4 linked regions of the Homo sapiens genome follow. The protein of the gene in region 1 purifies or fractionates together with the protein of each later gene. This does not show direct contact. Each region holds a gene or a part of one and is shown on either strand. Other genes may lie near its edges.

The links.
Region 2: the proteins of BNIP1 (region 1) and NBAS purify together in Homo sapiens (co-immunoprecipitation; 3 studies listed by BioGRID and IntAct, with this or other methods). This does not show direct contact.
Region 3: the proteins of BNIP1 (region 1) and SEC22B purify together in Homo sapiens (affinity purification with mass spectrometry; 3 studies listed by BioGRID and IntAct, with this or other methods). This does not show direct contact.
Region 4: the proteins of BNIP1 (region 1) and RINT1 purify together in Homo sapiens (co-immunoprecipitation; 4 studies listed by BioGRID and IntAct, with this or other methods). This does not show direct contact.

What each region holds. Positions count from the first base shown.
Region 1 is NC_000005.10:173,154,528-173,159,790, forward strand, and holds part of BNIP1 (vesicle transport protein SEC20), read left to right. Parts: intron 1-4,216; coding exon 4,217-4,318; intron 4,319-5,263. UniProt on the Homo sapiens protein: As part of a SNARE complex may be involved in endoplasmic reticulum membranes fusion and be required for the maintenance of endoplasmic reticulum organization. Also plays a role in apoptosis.
Region 2 is NC_000002.12:15,469,901-15,474,640, forward strand, and holds part of NBAS (NBAS subunit of NRZ tethering complex), read right to left. Parts: intron 4,425-4,740; coding exon 4,167-4,424; intron 3,448-4,166; coding exon 3,322-3,447; intron 1-3,321. UniProt on the Homo sapiens protein: Involved in Golgi-to-endoplasmic reticulum (ER) retrograde transport; the function is proposed to depend on its association in the NRZ complex which is believed to play a role in SNARE assembly at the ER. Required for normal embryonic development.
Region 3 is NC_000001.11:120,158,587-120,163,326, forward strand, and holds part of SEC22B (vesicle-trafficking protein SEC22b), read right to left. Parts: coding exon 4,624-4,740; intron 1,945-4,623; coding exon 1,798-1,944; intron 1-1,797. UniProt on the Homo sapiens protein: SNARE involved in targeting and fusion of ER-derived transport vesicles with the Golgi complex as well as Golgi-derived retrograde transport vesicles with the ER.
Region 4 is NC_000007.14:105,548,895-105,553,634, reverse strand, and holds part of RINT1 (RAD50-interacting protein 1), read right to left. Parts: exon of another isoform or gene 4,668-4,740; intron 3,581-4,667; coding exon 3,470-3,580; intron 3,375-3,469; coding exon 3,149-3,374; intron 2,066-3,148; coding exon 1,928-2,065; intron 1-1,927. UniProt on the Homo sapiens protein: Involved in regulation of membrane traffic between the Golgi and the endoplasmic reticulum (ER); the function is proposed to depend on its association in the NRZ complex which is believed to play a role in SNARE assembly at the ER.

The DNA.
Region 1 (5,263 bases):
TTTTTTTTTTTGAGAGACGGTGTCTCGCTCTATTGCCCAGGCTGGAGTGCAGTGGCCTGATCTTGGCTCACTGTGACCTCTGCCTCCCGAGTTCAAGCAATTCTTCTGCCTCAGCCTCCTGAGTAGCTGGGATTACAGGCGCCCACCATCACGCCTGGCTAATTTTTGTATTTTTACTAGAGACAGAGTTTCGCTGTGTTGGCCAGGCTGGTCTCTAACACTGGCCTCATGTGATTCACCCACCTTGGCTTCCCAAAGTGCTGGGATTACAGGTGTGAGCAACCACGCCCAGCCAATTGCATCAGTTACACACTGGTGGAATGTTCTCTCTCAGTCAGCAATAGTCAAGTGGGGGCGAGTGGGGAAGGGATAAATAGGGCCTATCTGAGCAGGTGGAGCTGAACATAGTTTACAAAAGCATATTTAACATTATACTGTATTGTATATTTTTAATCAAAAAATATGATTGCTTTTGTAATACAGGGTCATTTTTTATCTAAGGATAATTGGTACCAGAAAAAATCTACAGAAAGAAAACCTGCTGAAGGTGGACCAAAATTTAGAAGGTTTTGAGTGGGATGCTGTCTAAAAATAAAATAAAATAAAATGCAAGAAAAACCGTAAATTAAACAAAATTGAGGTCAAAAATTAAAACCAAAATCGAGGTTGTAATTGCAGGTGTGTGCTAATCCTTGATTATATAGTTACAGTTATATGCCATTTCTTGTTATTGAATTGGGAGAGGTTTAACTTTTCCAATGAAATTGTCAGACAACATGAAACAGTATCTTTCCCTTCACATTTGACTTTTGTACCAATCATAAAGAGGGTTTTTCCAAACATATTTGAGGTATTCAGATCATTCTCTCTCTTTTTTAAAAATACATTTTTGGCCCAGTGCGGCGGCTCACGCCTGGAATCCCAGCGCTTTGGGAGGCCGAGGTGGGCAGATCATGAGGTCAGGAGTTCGAGACCAGCTTGACCAACATGGTGAAACCCCTCTCTACTAAAAATACAAAAATTAGCCGGGTGTGGTGGCACACACCTGTAATCCCAGCTACTCGGGAGGCTGAGGCAGGAGAATCGCTTGAGCCCGGGAGGCAGAGGTTGCAGTGAGCCGAGATTGCTGCACTCCAGCCTGGGTGACAGAGTGAGACTCCACCTTAAAAACAAAAAAAAAATATTTTTATTTTTAAAAAATTAAAAAATTTTGGAAATGAGGTCCTTCTCTGTTGCCCAGTCTGGAGTACAGTCATAGCTTACTGCAGCCTCAGGAACTCCTGGGCTCAAGCGATCCTCTCACCTCAGCTTCCCAAGTAGTTGGGACTACAGCACACTCCACCGTGCCTGGCTAAATCATTCTCTTTTGAAACCCCTGCTAAGTTGTCATTCCCATGGGTTTTCTCTTTGTCTCTTGTTCACTGGTCTGCCTCTGCCAGATCTGTATTTGTGGCTTTGCTTCTGATTTGAGCAATTTGCCAGCATCATCTTCCCTGCAAGCAGCTGTGTATGTAACAGTCAGCTGTCAGGAAGACACCGACTGGCAAAAACACAGGCACAGGGAGGCCAGTGTAAGCAGGGAGGGCTGTATGAGTGGTGGGCAGTGATCCAGGGCTTGGCTATTTCACGAATACTTTATGTTATGATGGCTTTTGCTTTCCTGAGCCACCAAGCCTACTCAGATTATAAACACTGAGTACAGAGGAGCCCTTGTATAAAGTATGGTAAGTTATGCCAGACACACTCAGCTTAGCATGGGTTTAAAGCTGGGAATGGCCATCCACAATGTAGCATTACAGGCCAGAGCAGAGAAAGCTGTCAATTTATACTTTGGGGCTATGTGCAGTAGCTCACACCTATAATCCCAGCACTTCGGGGGCCGAGGCAGGAGGACTGCTTGAGCCCAGGAGTTTAAGACCATCCTGGGCAACAAAGCAAAACCTCATCTATTAAAAAAAAAAAAAATTAGCTGGGGGCATGCTGATGTGTGCCTGTAGTCTCAACTACTTGGGAGGCCAAGGCAGGAGGGCAGTGGGCTCGGGAGGTCAAGGCTGCAGTGAGCCGTGATCATGTGACTGCACCTGGCCTAGGAGACAGAACGAGACCCTGCCTCTTTTCTTTTGTTTTTTTTTTTTTTTGAGACAGAGTCTCACTCTGTCACCCAGGCTGGAGTGCAGTGGCGCAATCTCGGCTCACTGCAAGCTCCACCTCCCGGGTTCACGCCATTCTCCTGCCTCAGCCTCTCCGAGTAGCTGGGACTACAGGCACCCGCCACCACGCCTGGCTCATTTTTTATATTTTTAGTAGAGATGGGGTTTCTCCGTGTTAGCCAGGACGGTCTCGATCACCTGACCCTCATGATCCGCCGGTCTCAGCCTCCCAAAGTGCTGGGATTACAGGCGTGAGGCACCGTGCCCAGCCGACCCTGTCTCAAAAAAAAAACAAAAAAAACAAAAAAAACCAACTTTGGCAGTTGAAGCAGTAGTTGTGCTTGCTTGGGTCATCATGCTTGTCACACCATACAGTGAGTATCTGTTTGCTTGTCTTTTTCCCAAATGAATGTGAGGTGGTTGAGGAGAAGTACTGCCCCTCATTCATCTCTGGATCCCAGGGTCCTGCAGAACCCCCTTGCAAACTGTTTCAAAATGTAATGGATTCTTTAAAGTGGCAGGTGTGAAATGGCGGAGCAGGTGCTCATTAAGACCTTCAGCATAAAGGTGCTATTAGAAAACCACCCTGTCAGTTCATGTACTCTGTGTTTTGATTTTTGAGTATTTCCAGAGATTAGCACAATTGGTTTGAGCTGGCTACATAAGAGTTCTGAAGTATGAGTTTGATTCTTAGAGAGACGCAGTTAGCTTTTTTATAGTCTATCAACAACTGTCAACATTTCTTTTTTTTTTTGAGACGGAGTCTTACTCTCATTGCCCAGGCTGGAGTGCAGTGGCGTGATCTTGGCTCACTGCAACCTCTGCCTCCTAGATTCAAGTGATTTTCCTGCCTCAGACTCCCGAGTAGCTGGGATTACAGGCACTCGCCATCATGTCCAGCTAATTTTTGTATTTTTAGTAGAGACAGGGTTTTAACATGTTGGCCAGGCTGGTCTCGAACTCCTGACCTCAAGTGACCCACCCGCCTCGGCCTCTCAAAGTGTTGGGATTACAGATGTGAGCCACCACGCCCGGTCAACTGTCACATTTCTAACTCCAGGAAGCTGTTCACCAACTTTCCGTTATCACCCACAAGTTAGCGCAGGTGAAGACTGTAGATCCGCCGTGTCAGTCAGGGCTCTGCTAATCCATCATGTTTGTGTCATTCATGATTGGTCTGTAGTATGGAAAGAACAACAAACCTTGAAGAAATATTTTGAAAGATTGGCTTTTTGTGTGTGTGTGTGTGTTTTTTTTTTTTTTTCTTGAGAGAAGGTCTTACTCTGTCACCCAGGCTGGAGTATAGTGGTACTATCACGGCTCACTGCAACCTCCACTTCCCAGGCTCAGGTGATCTTCGCTCCTCCGCCTCCTGGGTAGCTGGAACCACAGGCATGCGCCACCACCATGCCTGGCTAATTTTTTGTATTTTTAGTAGAGACGGGGTTTCTCCATGTTGCCCAGGCTGGTCTTGAACTCCTGGGCTCAAGTGATCCCCCCACCTCGGCCTCCTAAAGTGCTATGATTACAGGTGTGAACCACTGTGCCTGGCCACGATTTTTTATTTCCTACAAAGTATATTAACTCAGCAGCTGAAGGGCCAGAAATGGTTGTTCAAGATACTGGAGATGAGTAAGTCATGGTTCTCCGGGGATGGTACCAATTAATACACAGGCCATAGCAGTACAGCCTTAGAGGCAACTGGACTGAAGAGGGGCCTTGTGTGACCAGCTGGGAAGTTTGGATGCCTCCCTGAAGTCCAGCCATTGTGGAGCTGTGCACAGAGGAGTGCCATGTTCACAGCCCCTTGGGCTGACGGGGGCAGAGTGACAGCAACAGAGCCTCCCCGTGGCGACCTCCAGGGTCCGGTCAAGGGGTATCAGGACCTGAGCAAGAACAGTTGCTGGGGAACCAGGAGGCGGAAGTGGCAGGAGGTGGGATGGGCTCTGAAGGCCGTGCCTGGTGGCCTTCTCCCGTGTGCCTTTGTTGGGGGGAAGTGCTGTGAATTGAACTGACTTATGGCTTGGTGGAGTGGACACACTCACACGTGAACCTTCCAATTCCAGCAATCAGGCCTCATGGAGGAAAGCTAATCTCACCTGCAAAATTGCAATCGACAATCTAGAGAAAGCAGAACTTCTTCAGGGAGGAGATCTCTTAAGGCAAAGGTACCTATTCTTTTATTTTTCTGGGCTCCGATAATAATAGATAACAATTGGCAAGGTGTAGGAAACCCCCTCTTGTTTTCAGCTTGGTGCTTAATTTAATTACATAAGTAATTTTTTTAAGTTTGAAAAAAATGCATACTTATTTGTAGTAAATTGGTAAAATAAAGTATGAATTACAAAATTAAAATATTGAATTTTTTTTTTTTTCTGAGATGAAGTCTCACTCTTGTAGCCCAGGCTGGAGTGCAGTGGTGCCCTCTTGGCTCACCGCAACCTCCGCCTCCTGGGTTCAAGTGATTCTCCTGCCTCAGCCTCCAAAGTATCTGGGATTACAGTTGCGTGCCACTGCACCCAGCTAATTTTTTGTATTTTTAGTAGAGACGGGGTTTAACCACGTTGGCCAGGCTGGTCTTGAACTCCTGACTTCTGGTGATCCACCCACCCCAGCCTCCCAAAGTGCTAGGATTATAGGCGTGAGCCACCATGCCCGGCCGAAAATATCAAATCTTATTACTCATGAACATTTTGGTATATTCTCTCCCTCATTTTTATTTCTACATTTCTTACAAAGTCAAAATTGTACCATACATAAAATTTCATATTCTGCTGTTTCAGCACAAAAGTTGTTCATTAAAAAAAAAAAAAAAGCTTTTTAAGCCTAATTCTAACAGTACATAGTATGTAGATTGTATGTTAATACAATTCCCTGTGTGTGTTTGCATTTCTAGTGTTTAAGTAGTGTAAGTAATACACCAGGGCATGTCTTAGAACATAAGGCTTTATCCACATTTTGGATGTTTCCTTTGGAGGGATTTCCAGGGATGAGATGATTGAGTCAAAGGAATGAACATTACCAAGGCTCTTCAATTGGCAAATTGCTTTACAGAAGGCAGCACTGGTTTATGTTCCTACTAGCAGTCCACAGGGGCGTGGGTCTCAGCACAC
Region 2 (4,740 bases), on another chromosome or scaffold:
GGGTGCAGCACACCACCATGGCACATGTATACATATGTAACAAACCTGCACGTTGTGCACATGTACCCTAGAACTTAAAGTAAAATAATAATTAAAAAATAAAAAATAAAAAAAAAATCCCTGACTTGCCCTCTTCCTAGAAAGAGCTATTATGGTTATAAATTTTAATTAAGATTTGACTCATTCCCTAGGATCCTTTATATATTGCCTCACATCAGTTCTTTCTTCAAATGTCTCTTAATTCACTTTCCCTTTTCCACAGCTGCGGCCTCCATACCAGTCTAAATCATCAACACAAAACATCTAGCACACTGTAGGAGTCCCCTGCCCCAAGCAAGGTTTCCTACCTTCCTTCCACTCCAATTCTCTCTACACCATCTTCCTCTGCTTCCACAGTCAGAAATCCACAACAGTAGATAAATGCCTAAGTCATCAGAAGCTTTCCACATCCTCCTGAACTCAAATCAATATATCTTTTCAATCATGTTTCCCAGTGTTCACTATTGTCAAATATCAGTGCCAGCAAACTGGTTGATGTACAGAGCTCATTTATCCATAAAATGTTTACTGGGCACCTACTGCACACCAGCCACTGAACTAGACATGGAAATATAGCAGTGAATAAAACAGATTTAGTCACTGGCCTCATAAATCATGCTCAGTGTCTTTTAATTTGTTCATACCATCTGTCCTGTTAAGAATGTCTTCCTCCCTTCTCATTCAAGAAGGCCTAATTTAAATCCTTCCAAATCCCTGCTCCAAACATCTTCACTATATAAAATCTTCCATCTCTACCAGATCTATAATAATCACTATCTTCACTGGGTTTCTAGAGTTGTATCTGAAATCTACTTATACGGCCAGTTATTTTTAATATGGTGAACCCCCGTCTCTACTAAAAATACAAAAATTAGCCAGGTGTGGTGTTGTGTGCCTGTAGTCCCAAGCTACTTGGGAGGCTGAGGCGGGAGAATCACTTGAACCAGGGAGGCAGAAGCTGCAGTGAGCCGAGATCGCACCATTGCAATCCAGCCTGGGCAAAAAAAAGCAAAACTCCATCTCAAAACAAAACAAAAAAAATCATAAGCTCCCTATGAGCAAAAGCCACATTTATGCCTGTCCTGTACCCCTTCACAGTCCCTAGCATAGTGCTCTTGCTCTTAACTGTCTATTTAACTAAACGAAATATTCCCCTCCCCAAAAAAGTACTTGCTTTGTCTCTCTTAACATCCCTCAACTCCCTCAGAGACAAAAACTGTCCTTTACTGTATCCCAGAAAAAGATATACATGAACTCATGAGCTCATTGTCTTAGATCACAAAACAAGAAAGAAAAATAATACAGAATTAGTGTTTTGATTTTCTAAAGAAAATACAAGCAACTTTATCTTCTTCCGTTTCATTACCTCTCATGCTCTTTCACCTCTGATATCTTGCTTGTATTAATGTTAGGTTTATCATCCTGTTTGGCTGATGCATCATCTTCTTCCATACAACTTTTTCATGTTATATTTTTACTTTTAATTACTAACGTATAAAACTTTTAGGGAAATAATCATCATGAAATTTTCCCAGTGTTTCCTATAATCTTCCACAATGCAAAGGTATTTTCCTTTCTATATGTTAAGATCAGAAGTCTCAACCTTTTTAAAAGTATGCCATGAGTCTAACTATAATTCTTTCTTACAAAGATGCCAAAGGTTAAAACATATAGGCTTGCTATGAAATCAATATGTCCCCCAAAATCCATATGTTGAAAAACTAATCCCCAGAGTGATGATGTTTGGAAATGAGACCTTTAGAAAGCAATTAGGTCATGAGAGTGGAGGCCCCATGATAGGATTGGTGTCCTCATAAGAGGAGGCAGTAGAGAGCCTTCTTTCTCTCTCTCTGCTGTCTGCCATATAAGGACACAGCAAGAAAGAAATCCATCTGCAAACCAGGAGAGTGCCCTCACCAGGAACGAAATTGGCTAACACCTTGATTTTGCACTTCCCAGCCTCTAGAACTAAGAGAAATAAATTTCTGCTGTTGAAACCACATAGTCTGATATTTTTGTTGCAGCGGCTAAAACTAATTGAGACAAGACTATATTAACCTTAACTATGGGAGGCAGGTAACAGGAAGTATCCAGTTTTGAGATTTAAGTTTTAAAAAGGCATATTTCGCAGTTTTCATATATGTTACCTATTTATTGCCTCTCAGCTCCAAATTTCCCCTCAAAGCCAGCTCTGTGGTAGCATATCTCATTTGTGGTTGACACGATTTTAAGCTCTGGGTGCTGGAGGGCCACTGCAAAGGAAGAGGCTCTGCTTTCTAGTCCTGATGTGCTTTGGTTCTTTTCTTCTTGCTCCTATGGCTTGGCCACCAACAAGGCACGTGGGCAACATCAAGTGGCACTTACTTCCCCGCTTCCTCCCTCTGTTGACAACCTCCCACTGAGTTTCAGTGACACTCTCATGGGCAGATTGTTTTCTAGTGAATCACCCAGGCACCTGAGAGGGAAGCTTCCCAGACTGGAAGCTACAGTAAGGCTGCCTATAGGAGTAGACAGTTTTTTCTTGCCAGTCTTGGCCATGATTCCTTAATTATCTACCAGCCTTGAGCCACATGCATGCTGGTAGGGGTTTCCTGCTTCCTAGTCCCTGGGGTCTTCTAAACCCCAACCTCAGCTCACTGGCCCCCCCCAGAAGCAGGCGTCCAGCTTTCCTATCCATCCCATATCTCCCTGACTGCCAACCTTGGCAACCGTGGACCAGCCCTGGCTCAAGGCAACCCAGAGAACTTCTCTTCCATCCTACATGCTGCAACCACTCCTGGTCCAATGGGTCTGAATCCCAGCCTAGGGGAGGGGCCTCCCTTCCAAGTTCATTCCCTTCATGGATATGTCCCTTCAGCCCTAGGGTAGTCCTTAGCGTTCTCTTCACATCCTTTATAGTTCATCTCTGGTTACTAGAAAATAATTCTCCATATTGTAAATTTCCCTGTTTAAATTACTGTGTGATTTCTGGCATCTGACTAGCTCTTGACTCATGCAGGTAAAGAGAAGTGATTGTGGTACAGGAAAGAAAACGTTAGGCCGAGACCAAGTAGTTAGCTGGTTTATCTGTGAATATTTGTTCACATGTATTCAGCATCAAAGTCCAGTTGCAGGGGCAATAAAATCTAACAAAAAGACCATTTTTCCAGCTGAGAAAATTGTACTTCATTGGCTGTATTATAGAAAAGTCAGCAATGTAAAGTACTCTAAAATGAAGCCCTATAAACAAAAGATATTACATGAATATACATTTTACCACATTACCAAAATATTTAAACATACCAAATAATTCTGAATTGAAGCAACGTTGACCGCTGACTTCCTCCACTGCCTCTGATATACAAGGTCAGTATCCAGGCCGTAGGTATGAGCCAAGGACAAGGCTTCCTCATACTCTTCACTTTCAATCTTCAGATAAAAACACGAGGACAGGAATGTTACATGACTGAATTATCCACAGGGTCCTGATGATGATACAATGAATGATGATAATCCCTTGGACTTATCCAGCATGTCACTAATTCCTGTGCACTGTGGCACCAGAAGCTCACAGATATTTTGAGGAGCAGAAAGATCTCGTGTTTCTTTCAGCACTTCAACAGAAAGATGAGAGATAAAAGGTGCAAAGCTCTCGTTTTAGAGTAAAACAGCGGCAAAACCAAGACAACCATGGAACAACCCGGCTTCTAGTCCAGAGCTCCTACCACGACATTGCAAGAACAGCACAAATCACGTGAACACACAGTGCTGGTCACCTCGGCTTCCCAAGCAAGCCCTGGACTAGAAAGCAAGTCTGAACTTCTTCCTTCACCCTCTGTAGATGGCTGATTTAAACACAGATAAAGGGAGAGCTGAAGGCCACATGAAGGGTAGCAAAGAAATGAGCTAAGCCACCAAGTGGATAATCAGTCTAAGTGAATTCAATTTTTATCCATGGTTTTGATTTTGATTATTTAGGTACAAAGATTAGCATTATTTTAAAAAGCTTTATAGAACTGATATTTTTAACATGTCAATGATCCAACATCCCTCTTGAAATTTTCTCCTTTATTAAAAAATTAACTTTTTCTCAATAAAAGAAAAGCTTGATGACTTCAAACTTGGGTAGTAATATGCTACTCTCTCACCTTCCTCTGATAAAGTTCCTCTGGTGTCGTGGAGCGCAAACTCACAAGGCGGTAGTTTTTAGTAATGGTTCGTGGGCGTTTCCGTGGTGGTGCAAATCGCTCCATTTCAGTCACCAAGTAAAGGCCCTGTTTTATATAACCAAAGTAGCGAGCCTTGGCAGATATTTCATAATCAGAATCAGAATCCTCTTCTCCTTCATCTTCTTCTCCAGCTCTAGTCTCCAAACGAGATCGTTTGGGGGCAAGTTTAATCTCACACTAAATTGAAAAAGGAGATTTGAAGTTAATAGTAAGGAAATAAGAATAACTTTTTAGAATTAATGAAAGAAAATATATTTCTAAATCTACTCTGGTTTGATTCATTAAATCAGCTATGTGATCAAGATTAACAATGGAACTCAAAGGAACCTTACAGCAAGCATTATATACATCAGAAATATGCACATACATTATCAGCTCAAATCTAAACTAAAGCCTGTTTTTTTCTTCTTCTTCTTCTTCTTCTTCTTCTTTGAGATGGAGCCTCCTCTGTCACCCAGGCTGGAATGCAGTGGCGTGATCTCAGCTTACTGCA
Region 3 (4,740 bases), on another chromosome or scaffold:
AGACAAAGCTATTGCTTGGAGAAGTCATTTAACAAATATTTATGTGACAGGCACCATGTGAAGTGCTGAGGATACAACAGTGATCAAAATATACATGATCCCTGCCTTTAAGGAATTTAGAGTCTTGCATGAGTGATACAAGAAAAATTCCTGTGCTAGTCTACTTTATCCCATATAGGAATTGCAAGTCTGTATGACAAAACCTTACACACTCACTCACTCAAAATTTGGTATTTAAAGAGTGTGAAGGTAAATGAATAACTGCTCACTACTCAAAAAAAGGTTAAAGTTTGTAGTTCATAATAAAAGAAAACTCACTTACTAATGAATATATAGCATGGCTGAATTCAAAAATACTTATTAAGGAACCTATTTGTGACCATTTCTGTGGGGGATATATAAGGAGTATGTGAAACAGATATAAAATACATAAGCACTATCTTTAAAGAGCTTACATGTCCACATTAAACACTTAGGTAATATTTAAATATCAGGTAAATATACATATACTTTTAACCTAATTTTACCTAATTACCTACACTTTTAAAATTATATAAAGGGCTGGGTGTTGTGGCTCATGCCTGTAATCCCAGCACTTTGGGAAGCTGAAGTGAGTGGATTGCTTGAGCCCTGGAGTTTGTGACCAGCCGGAACAACATGGCAAAACCCCATCTCTACTAAGAAAATACAAAAATTAGCCAGGCGTGGTGGCACATGCCTGTAGCCCCAGGTACTCAGGAGGATAAGGTGGGAAGATCGCTTGAACCCAGGAGATGGTGGTTGCAGTGAGCCAAGATCGTGCCATTGCACTCCAGCCTGGGCAACAGAACAAGACTCTGTCTCAAAAAAATATACGAAATTATATAAAAATATTTAATTATCCAAATATGTTTGCCTACTTTAATATAAATATATGAAATATATACTTATGTTATATGGAAATATATTTAATATATATTAAATATATATTTAATATGGTAAGAGGTATTTAATAAATATATTTAAGGTAAATTAGGTAAACACACATACATGTAATATGTGCTAAAACCATTATGTTATTAAGTGCTTTAGGAGTTTAAAGTACAGAAGAGATTAATGTGATACAGGCTATAAGGATCAGAGAAAGGTTCTTTAAAGAGACAGTTCTTATGGAGGTCTTACAGAACAGGTCCAGCATAAGGCAGAATAGACCACTAAGGATAGTAAAGAAGCTGGTGTGGCTACAGAAGAATGTTTGTGAACTAGAGAATGACAGACATTTGCATCTTCCTTATTTTCCATATGTAGAGCACAATGCCTTACAAATAACAAGCTCTCAATAACAATGGCTGACTGACGGAAAAATAAGTCAGACTGGATCTTATCTTGTAGTCCCAGATTTAAAAGTTTTTCAGAGGAATGCCTTGATGAAAATGGCATTTTATAAAGATTGATCTGGCAGCAGTAAAGTCTCCCAAAGAGGCTACTCAAAAAACCACTGCAATACATCATTGAGTTTTCTCTCATTCATTTCCCTTAATTTATACAAGTTATATAATTTAATTAATTTTGTGAATATCTTAGAAATAATCATTGCTTCTAATATGGATGAGTCCTTTACACTGTTCCAACTCAACAAAAACTAATCATGCTAGGAAAAAAAATATATTGGAAGCATTGTAATGTAATGTACTTCTGGGAGATAAATTCTTAACAGTTCTAGGTAGAATCTAATAGCATAAAAGGCACTGCAAAATAAGCTATCCTTGTCTATGGAATGAGAACCATTTCTTCATAAGACTCATTGCTTTTAGATACCTGAGAGTGCTTCTCCTCGTTGTAACACTTCTTCAATATTGGCCACCATGATCCTCTGCACATCTTGCAATTCAGTGTTGATGGAGCCTAGATTTCTTCGAGCACGACTGTCAATGTAGAGCTTCTTGGTTTTCTGAATGAAAGTATCTAGAATGATGAAGAAAACTGACCATTTCTTTCATGGCCATCAAAGTACTGAGGTAGGAGATTAAAAGTTCTGAGTTGGCCAGGCGCGGTGGCTCACACCTGTAATCCCAGCACTTTGGGAGGCCAAGGCAGGTGAATCATGAGGTCAGGAAATCGAGACCATCCTGGCTAACACAGTGAAACCCCGTCTCTACTAAAAATATAAAAAGTTAGCCAGGCGTGGCGGCACACGCCTATAATCCCAGCTACTCAGGAGGCTGAGCCAGGAGAATCACTTGAACTTGGGAGGCAGAGGTTGCAGTGAGCCGAGATCACACCACCACCACACTTTAGCCTGGGTGACAGAGCAAGACTCTGTCTCAAAAACAAAAAAAAAAAAACCAAAACAGTTCTGAGTTTATTCCTGGATTTGCCACTGTCCATGGTTAACCAAACTCTTGGTTGAATATCAAAATCTAGGCTTTGATTATTTCATTTGTAAGATGTAAAGGTATAATTAGACGACCATTCAGGAGAAATGTCCTTTGAATACCTTTGAATTAGAAGTATTTGCTATCTAAGGCTGCTATCAGAATCCTTAGAGAAATTAAGACCCACTATAGTAAGCCTTTCCTGAAAACAGAAATTTTCAAACAGTATTCTGAGGACCCTTAGGCTAAGTGTTACTTACCTCTACACATTCCTTAAAAGGATGCTGGTAACACTCTAGCATTATTACAGCCTAACATGGCAAAAGGGTTCATGATCATTAAAAAGCTGAGAAACTTTACCTTTTCTCTAATATACATTCCCAGTTTCATTCCATTCTTAAACCTCAGGTAAAGCAAATATGTAATAGGGAGTTTTCCAAAATACCAATACAAAACTGAACTGAAGTCTCGGCCAGGCACTGTGTCTCACACGTATAAATCCCAGCATTTTGGGAGGCCAAGATGGGTGGATCACTTGAGGCCAGGAATTCGAGACCAGCCTGGCCAACAAGGCAAAACTCCCATCTCTACCAAAAATACCGAAATTAGCTAGCTGGTCATGGCAGCGTGCACCTCTAGTCCCAGCTATTCAGGAGGCTGAGGCACAAGAATCACTTGAACCTAGGAGGCAGAGGTTGCAGTTAGCCAAAATCATGCCACTGCACCCCAGCCTGGGCAATAGAGCGAGACTCTGTCTCTAAGTAAATAAATAAATAAATAAAAACTGAAGTCTCATCCATCTTTTGCTCATATCAGTATTTCTCAAAACTATAGGAAGAATGACTTATTATTAAAGATATTTTCAACTTTTGGCAAAAATCTTAATTTAAGTGTGCTGTACCCCTTTCATTTGCCTCTTTAGATCTCCTCTCTGCCCTCCTGCACCTTGCTTTCTGCACTGGGAAGCTGACTTGGATGAAGCGCCTCAAGACTCCTTGCTCTGTGCCAGTTAGGTTCAGGCAATGAAGAAGCCCCAACAGTAGGGAAGAAGGAGAACAGACAGTGAGTGATGTCCGGGTATTTATTCCCCTGGCTTCTTTCAGAGAAGGAAATAACCTTCTTCTGGAAGTATCCCTCTACCAAAAGTTACGCTCCTCTCAAGTTGGCCTTCTCTAGAAATTTTCTCCTTTTCAGTTTCAGAAACTGCTCCTCCCCCTTATACATTCAGGCCTAGGGATGGTAACAACCAGTATGCTACTGGTCAGAGGTTACTGTACCTTGTAATTCTCCTACAGCCTAGTCATATCTTTGTATATAATCCCTTAAGCTAATTTGGGTGTGCCATCTGTTTCCTGTATGACCCTGATACATTTGTCTTATTTTTGAGGGAGGTTTATGGGAGTATTACTGTCTATAAAAATAAAATTTGAAAAACTGGACATTATATAAAGCAGCACTTGGAGAGTATATAGTTATGAAACACTAGAGTGTTTTTCCAAAGCAAGATGACCCATTTATCTAGCAAACTTGAAACACTTCAAAAATTCTAAGCCAGTAAAACCAATTTCTCTTTTAACTAAAAATTTCAGCGATATAGCCTGATCCTACTTGTTCTCACTCCCTGTACTTACTGTACTTAGGACATTTCCTTTGATCCCTTACCATCAGATACTTTACCAGGTCTGATTAGTAATTAGTCTTTCTATAATTCTTGCACAAATACAGACACCTATGCTCACTATTCCTGAATGTAGTAAATATTATACCCCAATACCATGAGTACCAGGTATCTTCTATTTCTTTGTTATGTTTTGTTTTTTTAATTAGAGGATCTTATTCTACTAAAAGAAACAAAACATCATTCTTTCTGATTTCCCAATTCTGATCTCCATAAAATGAGCCTTATTGTGAGTGTGAGTCTGTGGACTGGGGTAAAGAAGAACTCAGCCATTATATGCCAATCAAGTAGATCTTTAGGCACAGTTCCTGTCACATGTGACTCTAAAGAAGAATCAAACCAAATAACAGAAAGGGCAAAAGGCAACAATTTCTATGGGGGAAAGATCAAAAGACTAGAGAAAATTACTTTTCAGAACAAAGCCTTAGTCACTCAAAAAGACAAAAAGAAGTGGAATGGAAAAGGATGCAGAAGCTAAAACTTCAGCAAGTAAACATCAGAAAAAATGTATAAATATTATATCAGTGTAACAAATAGCTTCTCCATATTGTTTGCTCCCTTGATAGAGAGAAGTGAGGGGCAAAAACTTACCAAATTCAATAAAGGAATAGGGTCGGGACACAGTGGGCACCTTCTTTCCATGCTGTTCATCAAATTCTGAGTGCAAATCTTCTAGGTAGGCAAAAGCCAACTTCTTAGGGAAGGCAG
Region 4 (4,740 bases), on another chromosome or scaffold:
TCGAGACCAGTCTGGGCAATATGAAACCCCATCTCTAGTAGAGCCGCCACCATGCCTGGCTAATTTTTTTGTATTTTTAGTAGAGACGGGGTTTCACTGTGTTAGCCAGGATGGTCTCGATCTCCTGACCTCGTGACCTGCCCACCTCAGCCTCCCAAAGTGCTGGGATTACAGGTGTGAGCCACCGTGCCTGGCCAACTGCCTGTAAATTTTTGTATTTTTAGTAAAAATACAAAAAAAAATTAACCAGGCATGGTGGCAGGCATCTGTAATCCCAGCTACTCAGGAGGCTGAGGTAGGAGAATTGCTTGGACCCAGGAGGCGGAGGTTGCAGTAAGCCGAGATTGCGCCATTGCACTCCAGCCTGGGTGACAAGAGCGAAATTCTGTCTCAAAAAAAAGAATTTACAATTGACATGATGAGATGTCTGAAATTTTCTTTGAAATACTCCAGAAAAAAAAAATTGAGGAGTAAAATATAACAGAAAAGTGATAATTGCTTTAAACTTTGGCAATAGGTACCTGAGAGTTCATCATATTATCCTACTTTTGTGTATGTTTGAAAATTTTCTGAATAAAAAGTTTTTAAGAGACATGAATTTTCCTTAATTTTTTTGTCTTAGTATTTTTCATATTTTTCTTATAGTTAAAAATATGGAATGATGACTGGGCACGGTGGCTCATGCCTGTAATCCCAGCACTTTGGGAGGCCGAGGCAGGTGGATCACAAGGTCAGGAGTTCAAGACCAGCCTGGCTAAGATGGTGAAACCCCGTCTCTACTAAAAATTCAAAAATTAGCTGGGCGTGGCAGCAGGTGCCTATAATCCCAGCTACTTGGGAGGCGGAGGCAAAAGAATTGCTTGATCCTGGGCAGCAGAGGTTGCAGTGAGCCGAGATCATGCCACTGCACTCCAGCCTGGGTGACAGAGTGAGACTCCATCTCAAAAAAAAAAAAAAAAAAAAAAAAAGGAATTATTTACTGACTGGGCTGGAATGATACTTCTTCAGGTTACCAGACAAGCCTAAGAAACGGACAGGCTAGTGGTTGACGAAGGTGAAGAGGGCCAGGGATGGTGGCAATGAGGGTCCAGTGGCACCTGGACAACAAGCAGGCCCACAAGGGGGCAACGTGATTGGCTAAAGACCAACCAGGGCCAGAGGATGCTAGGCTACCCTCCAGCCAGAGAATCCCTGCACTGTAACAAAAGTTCCTATTACTACTCCAATCCTTAAAATTACTTCATTATTTTACTCTCTTCTGCAATCTTTGATAAATCAAGATCAAGACAATATTTAAAATATAGGCCAATCACCATTTACTGAAGACACCTAAAAAGCCCAATAGCAAGACAGTTTGGATAATAAAATTAAATTCCTATTTAATTGTTTTTGTGTAATTATTCAGGAAGTTTTCCTTCATGTATACCAATGTTTAAATCCTTAAATTATTAAAAACCCAAAAGTTAGAATATTGTGTTAGATTTCTACCAATATAGAAACTGAATTTGAAGATAACAACCATCATATAATATTAATTTGCTGAGCCACTTATTTATTGATTACTTTATTGACAGGGTCTCACTCTGTCACCAAGGCTGGACTGCAGTGGCGTGATCATGGCTCACTGCAACCTCTACCTCCCATGCTCAAAAAATCCTCCCACCTCAGCCTCCCAAGTAGCTGGGACTACAGGCACACACCACCACAACTGGCTAATTTCTGTATTTTTTCGGAAGAGAGGGCATTTCACCATGTACCCCAGGCTGTTCTCGAACTCCTGGGCTCAAGCAACCTGCCCGTCTCAGCCTCTCAAAGTGCTAGGATTACAGGCATGAGCCACTGCACCCAGCCTACTGAGCTACTTTAAAAACTACCACGTGAAAACAGTACTTTTAAAACAAAGTCATATCTTAAAAGACATACTTACCAGTTATAACCAAGAGTAGAGTCATAAAAGTTTCTGCACAATCTGGAACTTTCATTTCATCCACGTCAGTGATATCCTTATATTGCGATACCCAGGCAGCTTCTGAGGAAAGCATTGAGTCCATTTTTTGAAGAGCAACTGATAAGCAGACAAAACAATTATGTCAATTAAGTAGTTACAGTCGTTCCTAATTATTCAACTTGTAATTTTTTAGGAATGATGGCTTTTCTATAAAAAAGAAACAAACCTACAATATCCCACTGGTTGTACTAAATTTAACTTAATTAATGCTTTAAACAGGATACTTTACTCCCATCCCCAAATTCTGAAAATAGTTATGTTGACTAGATAAGCTACAGTAAAAAATATTCTATTGGCCAGGCACGGTGGCTCACACCAGTAATCCCAGCACTCCAGGAGGCCAAGGTGGGTGGATTGCTTGAGTCTAGGAGTTCACAACCAGCTTGGGCAAAACCCCAGGGAAACCCCATCTCTACAAAAAATACAAAAAGTAGCCAGGCATGGCTTGCATATACCTATACTCCCAGCTACTGGGGTGGCTGAGGCAGGAGGATCACCTGAGCCCCAGAGGTCGAGGCTGCAGTAAGCCATGATCGGCCCACTCCACTCTAGCCTCGGTGACAAAGTGAGACCCTATCTCAAAAATAAAAAAATAAAATATTCTGACACTTTGGGAGGCCAAGGCAGGTGGATTACTTGAAGTCAGGAGTTCCAGACCAGCCTGGCCAACATGTTGTAACCCTGTCACTCCTAAAAACAGAAAAATTAGCCAGGCGTGGTAGTGCGTGCCTGTAATCCTAACTACTCGGGAGGCTGAGACAGGAGAATCGCTTGAACGCAGGGGGTGGAGGTTGCAATGAGCTGAGATCAAACTACTGCACTTTAGCCTGGACAACAGAGCAAGAGTCTGTCCCAAAATAAATAAATAAAAATAAAATAAATTATATGATAAAATCTATAAAACAAACACCCCACTGGCTTGACTATTCCACTCTAGAAATATGTAGAGTGTAATTTCAGGAAAAATGGAAGTTTCATGTGAAGTAAAGAAAAGATTATCTCTGAAGGAAACAGAAAACCCTGAAAAGGAAATTTCAAATGGCTCTAGTTCCTATTTAGAACTGGAGAAGAAAAATATCAAAAATGTATACCCACAGAAACAGACATATCTCCCTACCATCTGGCCACATCAGCACTTACATTTTCTCTCCACCGTCAACCATCTCTGAAAACAGGTTTCCTCTGATAGAATATGCATACAACTAGCAAAAGTGCCAGGATAGCCATGAACACTGTGTAGCTCCCTTTCAAACAAGAGTACTTCATCCACCAAATGACAGAAGAGATTGTCATCATATAGCAGACAAGGAATATCAGTGGCTAACTTCTCAAGAACCAGCATCATAAGGCCCCGAGAAAATTCAAGCTAAAAAAATACACAAACATGAGGTATGTAAATAAAAAGTTATCCATGCACACATACAGTTCTAAAACAGAAACACTTATGACTGAGTCTCTTACCCTTGCGTTTACCAAAGAGCCTACTTTGTCTAATATTGGCTGAATCTTCTCATCCAGAAATTCAGTATGGTTTCCAATCCACATAAGTACTTGAGCCAAGTACCATTCTGGCTAAGGAAGGAGGAAAATAGTTTGAATTCTTAAGTCATTCCAATTAGAAAGTTACAATTACATGGTTCTATTTAATTGTATATGCACAACACTTATAAAAATTAGTTGAAAATTCCTGTATGTAAGAGCACAATTTCTACTCCAAATTTTAAACTCCTGCAAGGCTTAATAATCAAATGTTTGCTAATGTACTCCCAACAAATTTCAATAATATGACTTAAGTCAATAAACTCATAAATTTACAATGCCATATATATTTAAAACCTAGCACTTCAATAATATGTAAAATGATGAGTATTACAAAGAACTGATGGCCTATATTTTTTGAAATAGCATTTGAAAATAATTTTAATATTATTTTCTTATGGTTTTTATTTTCAAAAAGTAAATCAAGAAAAAAATTGCTGGCCAGGCGTGGCAGCTCATGCCTGTAATCCCAGCACTTTGGGAGGCCGAGGTGGGTGGATCAGCTGAGGTCAGAAGTTCAAGACCAGACTGGTCAACATGGTGAAACCCCGTCTCACCTAAATATACAAAAATTAGCTGGGCGTGGTGGTGGGCACCTGTAATCCCAGCTACTCAAGAGGCTGAGGCAGGAGAATCGCTTGAACGCGGGAGGCAGAGGTTGCAGTGAGCCGAGATCACACCATTGCGCTCCAGCCTGGGCAACAAGAGTGAAACTTCGTTCCAAAAAAAAAAAATTGCTAGTCTGCATTACAAAAACTACGCATGTCTTATACAGGTTTAAGAGCAGAAATACCAAGTACATGCCAGGCGCAGTGGCTCACTCCTGTAATCCCAGCACTTTGGGAGGCTAAGTCAGGTGGATCACCTGAGGTCAGGAGTTCCAGACCAGCCTGACCAATATGGTGAAACCCATCTCTACTAAAATTACAAAAATTAGTCCAGTGTGGTGACATGTGCCTGTAGTCCCAGCTACTTGGGAGGCTGAGGCAGGAGAATCGCTTGAACCTGGGAGGTGGAGGTTGCAGTGAGCAGAGATTGTGCCACTGCACTCCAGCCTGGGTGACAGAGCGAGACTCCAACTCACAAAAAAAAAAAAAGAAAAGAAATACCAAGTGCTTACTATTTGCTTTGCTTTGTTTTGCAATGATAACTCAGCAATATCTGATGCCCAAGAGCGGAAATACCATTTTTCC